Linked DNA regions of Homo sapiens. The protein of the gene in region 1 interacts with the protein of each later gene in a pairwise test. Each region holds a gene or a part of one and is shown on either strand. Other genes may lie near its edges.

Evidence for each region.
Region 2: the proteins of ZNF175 (region 1) and LPXN interact in a two-hybrid assay, tested with the Homo sapiens proteins (one large-scale study listed by BioGRID and IntAct).

Annotation. Positions count from the first base shown.
Region 1 is NC_000019.10:51,584,711-51,588,367, reverse strand, and holds part of ZNF175 (zinc finger protein 175), read right to left. Parts: intron 1,742-3,657; coding exon 1-1,741.
Region 2 is NC_000011.10:58,544,808-58,548,464, reverse strand, and holds part of LPXN (leupaxin), read left to right. Parts: intron 1-3,657. UniProt on the Homo sapiens protein: Transcriptional coactivator for androgen receptor (AR) and serum response factor (SRF). Contributes to the regulation of cell adhesion, spreading and cell migration and acts as a negative regulator in integrin-mediated cell adhesion events.

The DNA.
Region 1 (3,657 bases):
GCCTTTCCACATTCAGAACACACATAAGGTCTTTCTCCCGTGTGAATTCGCTGATGCACCTTGAGTTGTGGTTTCTTACTGAACGATTTCCCACAGTCAAGGCATTCATAGGGTTTCTCTCCCATGTGAGTTCTTTGATGGGTAATCAACTCTGATTTCTGGACAAAAGCCTTCCCACATTTGTAACAGACAAAAGGCCTCTCTCTAGTGTGAGTTATTTGATGTTTATGGAAATTTGACCTGCCGTTGAAGGCCTTCCCACATTCAGTGCACACATAGGGTTTCTCACCCGTGTGAATTCGCTGATGCTCTTTGAATTGAGACTTAGAAGTGAAGGCTTTCCCACATTCACTGCATTTGTAAGGCTTCTCTCCGGTGTGAATTCTCTGATGCATGCTGAGTATTGACTTCTGGTTGAAGGCTTTCCCGCATTCACTGCATACATGGTGTCTTTCTCCAGTATGAATTTTCTGGTGTATATTCAGGTGTGACTTTTGGGTGAAGGTTTTTCCACAGTCACTGCATTCATAAGGTTTCTCCCCTGTATGAATTCGATGATGTATATCAAGCTGTGACTTGGAAATGAAGGATTTCCCACAGTTGTGGCACTGATAAGGTTTTTCTCCTGTGTGGCTTCTTTGATGGACAATCAGGTGTGCCTTCTGGATGAAGGCCTGCCCGCATTCGATACACACATAGGACTTCTGCCCTGAGTGGATTCTCTGGTGCAAGCTGAGTGTTGACTTCTGGGTAAAGGCTTTCCCACATTCACTGCATGCATACTGTCTCTCACCAGTATGAATTTTCTGATGTATAATGAGGGTTGAGTTTTGGGAGAAGCCTTTGCCACATTCACTGCATTCATAGAGTTTTTCTCTACTGTGAGTTCTCTGATGTCTGAAGAGAGATAACATCTGGAAAAAGGCTTTTCCACAGTCATGGCATTTATAGGGCTTCTTTCTAGTGTGTGTTTTCTGGTGCGTAAGCAATTCTGATCTCTGAATAAAGACCTTCCCACATTCCTTGCATATACAGGGTATATCACCTGTATGATCTGTCAGATATACACTGAGTTTTAGTTGTGGCATGAAGGCTTTTCCACATTTGCCACATTCATGGAGGTTTCCTACACTATGAATTCTCTGTTGGGCAAAGAGGTGTGACTTCTGGGTGAAGCTCCCCCCACATTCAGAACATCCATCTGGTTTCTTCTGAGTATGAATTTGATGTTGCTTGAGTGACTGTTTATGGCCACAGACTTTTCTACACTGGTTACCTTTGCAAAATGTCTCTCCTGTATGAATATTCTTGCTGCAGGCATCAGAAGAGCTATGGCTGAATAGCTGACCAGACCCAACAACGTCATCAAGCTGTTCTGTGTCATTGCTTTCATTCTGACCGTTCACTTCTAGGTTCAGCTTCAAACTTTCTGTAAATAAGCAACATTTCTGAGGTTGTTTCTGTGAAGAAGCAAGGTGGGGCCTCGTGCGAATCATTTTCCCAGGGTCCTTATATTCACAATTGCTTTCTGTGTTCAATGTTTTCTTGTTGAAGAAAGCACTGTGACTCATGGGTTGAATTTGATTTTGCTCATCTTTCTTTGTGCGGTCAGCATCCAGCCTCAGTTCTTCTAAAATGGAACACCATGAACCATCTCTTGTGAACTCACCTACCATATCCTTTTGAAATGAAGCTTTCTTAGAAATCTCCTTTTGTGGGATTTCAAGCCCAAACTCCCTTTCTAAAAGGAGAAAGAGAAGATGAAATAGACACAATGAACAAGAAAGAGGAGAAACTGCATGAAGCTGATTGACACAGAACACAAGGAAATTGCTGAGTCATGTAATAATGCTGCTAATGATGCTGACAATGAGCAGAAACACAGAGCCCTTATTACATGATGAGCATTTATCTACATAGCACTTAGCATGTGCCAGGCAGTGGCCTACATGGTGCACACATACTCATTTAATCTGCATAATAACCTCAGGAGGTAGCGATGATGGGTGTTCCTGTTTTACAAAGAAAAGGAAGCACATAATGGTTATGTAATTGGCCAAGATCACTTTGCTAATCTGTGGGGATTAGATTTCAACAACCTGAGGACACTTATGCAAGTGGTCTAGACACCCAGATCTAGTAGGATGAGTAGGATAAAACAGACAAGTGTTGCAGGGCAACATGTGTGGGCAGCCAAGGCTTGAAGGAGGGGGCTCAGTGTGTAGGTCTTCATTAACTTTCAGAGATGAATCCTCACCAATCTGCCTGCTTTATCTTACTTGTTAGAAACAATGCCAAGTCCATCAGCCCTGTATATCCTTCTGAAAACTATTAAAGCTTCACCTATCTTGACATGGCCAACCAGTGAAAGAATGACTATGCCTCAACTCTCCTATGCCTCAACTCTCCATGAAGCTACAATTTTTTTTTCTTGAACTTAGGAATATACCCATATCCCCAGAAATATATTCTAAAAGACTGGACAAGCAAGCTGTTCCCCAGAATTTGTTTCACCCTTGTTCCATTGAAATTAATTGTTCTTTGTTAGAACTTTTGGCTTTATGCTATCAAATATGCCTTTTTTAGTTTAGTTTTTTGTTTTGTTTTGTTTTTTTGCCAAGAATAAGAGTCCCTGATCATCCTGTGCACTTTACTAGTATACTGCACAAAACACAGCAGGTTCTCAATAAAAATAATAGTTACTAAATTTTACTATTACTTTTTCTACCAGATTTTAATACTGAGTATGAACATCACATGTAGTTTCTTTTCGCTTTCAGTCACTTAAACTGTATCCCAGACTCTTGTCCTATCAAAAAAACTCAATCATCTTTCATTCTTTTTTTAAAAAAAGGACACTTTTAATCTTTATTGTTAACTTTTTCTTATTGTAGCAAAAGTGCATAATATTACATTTACCATCTTGCCCATTTTGTATTGTACAGTTCAGTAGTGCTACCTGTATTCACCCTGTTGTGCAATGGATCTCCAAAACTTTTACATCTTGCAAAACTGAAATGCTGTATCCATTAAACAATTTCCCTTTTCCCCCATCCCTCATTCTCTGGCAGCCACAATCTTATTCTGTCTCTATGAATTGACTACTTAAAGTACCTCATACAGGTAGAATGATACATTTGGATTTTTTGTGTCTGGCTTATTCACTTAGCATCATGATAAGATTCATCCGCACTGCAACATGTTTCATAATTCCTCTTCCTTTTTAAGGCTGAATAATATTTCATTGTATGTATAGACCACATTTTGTTTACCAATTCATTGGTCAATGGACAATTCCACTTTTTGGATATTGTGAATAGTGCTGCTATGAACAAGAGTGTACAAACAGCTGTTTGGGTCCTTGCTTTCAATTCTTGTGGGTATCTACCCAGAAGTGGAGTTGCTGGATCATATGGTAATTTTATGTTTAATTTTTGAGAAATCATCATCCTGTTTTCCATAGGACTACACCATTTTACATTCCCACTAGTAATACACAAGGATTCCAGTTTCTCTATATCCTTGCCAACACTTGTTATTCTGTTTTTTTAATTGTAGCCATTCTAATGGATGTAAAGGGATATCACCCAGTGGTTTTGATTTGCATTTCCCACATAATTAGTGAAGTTGAGCATTTTTTCCTATTATTGGCCACTT
Region 2 (3,657 bases), on another chromosome or scaffold:
CTTTTCTTTTTTTTTTTTCTGGAGATATCCCTCCAGGAGACTTTCCTCCTCCTGATTCAACATGAAATGATTTCTTCCTGCTGAGTAGCAGTCATTCTGGTTCATTAACTTAGAATTATATCTAGTAATTACTCTTGGAAATTCCTTTTATTAGTTTCCTCTTTGGATGCTCTGTTTCCTGGGTCCCATGTCTATGTTTTATACATGTTACCACCTTTATTTTGGTGGGGAACATCCCCTAGTAGCTTTCTGAGAAAGAATTTTTGAGAACTTGAATATCTGAAAATATTTTTATTCTGTCATTGCCCTTAAGTTGCCTGGGCATAGAATTCTAAGTGGAAACTATTTTCCTTCATAATTCTGAAGACATTGCTTCACTGTCTTCTAGCTTCCATGATTGGCAAGTTTTTATTAAATTTTTTTTATCCTTGATCCTTTCTACATGACCCATTCTTCCCCCTTTGTATGTTTGTTTCATGTGTTTTCTGAATTGTCTTGTTTTTTTTAATTTCTCCTTTTTATGTTTGTTTTGAACAAATATGGAATCAGAAAGCTGCTTTACTTTGTTTTTCTCCTGTCCTTTTAGAATGAACTCAGTGGGGAAGGATTTCTCCTCTCATAAATAAAAGCTTGTGCAGTCCTCTGTCTTTTCTGATTACTGTTAAAAAACAGTTCTAAATATAAAATCAATTTAAGAAACAAAACACAAAAACTAAGCCATTAGGTAATTCAGTCTGTGTAATAGTTAAGGCTTCCAGCACTTTAAAAGTGACAGCCACTCCCTCTCTTTTTTAGGACCTTCAAGCTGCAGGAGGCGAGGACAGGGGTATGGCCTTTCCTCTCTCCTGACCTCGCTTTGTTATCTACCACCCTCACCCTTATTGCCAGCCTTGACACCTGCCTGCTCTAGGGTTGAAACACTAGGGAGGATGGAGATGAGAATAGAAGGCAGGAAGGTCTAACTTGTCTAGGATTGTTGTTAAATTGGCTTTATGCTCTCCAGGCTCAGCCAGTGTTTAGCTCTGACTTTTTTCCCTGAATTCTTTTCGGGATTAAGACAGGTCCAGCAGTGAACTCTTGATTGCCCTTTACGTGTCTTGACTAGCTATTCTCTCCTTGTCATGTTTCTTTGAGGATTTGTTTTGTAAAGATTCTTTTTTCAAGGGGCTTTCATTGTTCCCTCCTAGTGAACCCTTAGAAATTATTAACATCGTTCCAGATAATCTCTTCCTCTCATATTTTCATAGAAGGACCATGGATAACTTACTCTTTTCTCTGACAGCCAGTGGAGTTATAATTTTTAGCTGCATGTTTCTATTCAGCTGCCATAGGCTCTTTCAGCCAGACTCATCTATGGACTTTTTCCAGGGGTAACTCTGATACCACTAACTGCATCTCACTAATGCCAAGGCACACATATCCAACTCTCTGAGTCGTCCCAGTGAAGTCCCTCTTTTAACCTGAGGTTATCAAGAACTATACCTCATCTTTCTTGGTGGTGATGGGGCACTCATAGCACAGTTTTCTTCAAAGGAATCCTTCTCTCAGTTTTCCTTTTTCTTTACCTGTTTTCTCCTGAACAAGAGTGAGGAATTCCAGAATTGTACAAGTAATCTTTGACTACCTGTTTGGAGGGATGTTTTGCAGTTCAATTTGGAATTTGATATATATTACATCTTGGTGCCTTACATTTGTTTACACTGGTCTTTCCCAATACTGCTGATCCATGGTTGTCTGTTACTATTTAAGAATGAGACACTAAAATGCTAATTGCAAACTCCATGGATATAGACAGAAATTGTTGACTGGTAGACTTGACTATATGGTACTCAGGTAAGATACTCTGGCCATTTTGTTGAGTGACTCCTGAATATGACAATCTTAGGTCTTTTCTGTTGAGTCAATTATGCTAAAGAGATGTTCTCTTTGCCAGAATTCTGAGATTGAAAAAGGGGATGGGGGAATGGGCTTTTCACCATTCAGCATGTCAACTTTTACTTAATTCCCATTTTTCAGTAGAGAGCTTGACTCGTTTCCTCATGGTGTCCAACATCTCTGATCACTGAGACTCTCTTGTTCAATATTTACAGAAATAATCATTGCATCTTACGGTAAGATAAGGCATCTAACTTTCTAATGGTTCTTTAGACTTTCAACCAGTCCTGTTTCTAGCCTTGAAGAGTATCTCATGCATTCAGTTCCTGAGCCCCTCTGATGTTATCATATTCAAGATGGCTTGATTTTTATTGGCCTCTCCCATCTGTGGAGACGTAAGTTCCAGTTTTCTTATTTATGTTAAGCCAGGTACCACTCTTAAAATCTACTTTAAATTCTTGAAAATTTAGTTAATATCTCATCTGGTGGCATATCCTTTACTTTTTTCTCTTTCCTTATGGCTCTTTATAATTTACATAATTTCTTAACTGTCATGTTAATGATGTTTCAGGAGGGAGTAAAGAAAATCCCATGTGTTTAGGCCCTTTTACTAATATGGAGACTTTCCTAAATATCAGGCATATTATTATGTATATGGTTAAAAATAATTTATATGATGCCATCACAGTCTGTGAGAGCAAGTTTATTCAACATTTTACCTAGTTATAGATGAGTCTCAGGTAGGTAAAGTGATTTTCTTAAAGTCACACAGTTAGAAAGTTGAAGAGGCAAGATTTCAACTTGGGTATCATTTCTGCAAGTTCCATGTTTTTTATAAAACATCACAACTGCCTTTTGACTGAAATTCAATTCCTCTTCGGCTGTTGGATCTCTTTACTTTTGTGGTACCAACACGATATGCTTTATTTGACAATAGACCCAGATACAGTGGTGCTGACAGAATCCACTAGCAAAGTGCTCTGTAGTAATTTGCTTGTTCACTGGAGCTTGCTCAATGCTTTTTCACAAATCATTAGGTATTTCATTTCTAGATGGTATTTTACCTAAGCAGCATTTTTCATTGACACTTAATCCAAATCATCTTAAATTGTGTCACAATAAATTTATATTGTACTGGTAGCCATAAAAGTCTGAGAATTAGTTGAGTACAACAGTCAACAAGTGAATACTGCCTATGGATCATTATGATGGAGAAGTTGCCTGAAAGCAGAACAACAGGACATAGGCACATTTCAGGTAGAGACATAAGTTAGATACACACACAAAAAAATACCCAATCCATAGGATGACCAGAAAGCACCATTAAGGTAGCTAGTTCTCATTTTCTTGACTCAGGCCCCTTCTAAACAGACAGGGCTGATGGGGTCATTTATGGCTTTATATAAACAGGAAACAACACTTAAAACATATTTATACATAGAGCCACATGACAAAAAGTGACATTTATTGATCAGAAGCTCCACTTGGGTTGTATTTTCCTTTTTATGCCTGGCTTTCTGTAAAAAGGTCTCCTGCCATATGATCAGTTCATTAATTAGGTGTCATCCTGCCTCACCCCAAGTTAGATAGTCACAAAGAGTTTCTATAATGACAGTTTAACCTCTGAGCCTCCTGGGAAATTAAATTCATCTGCATTTTTTCATCAGTCCAAAGAATTCCTCTTTAAGGCTCAAGTCATTGGTCCTTGGCATCCTCCCACAGGGATGAGCTCTTCAATGTCTACCTGTGTTTCTTTTTAATTGTTCATTATCCAGGTCATGC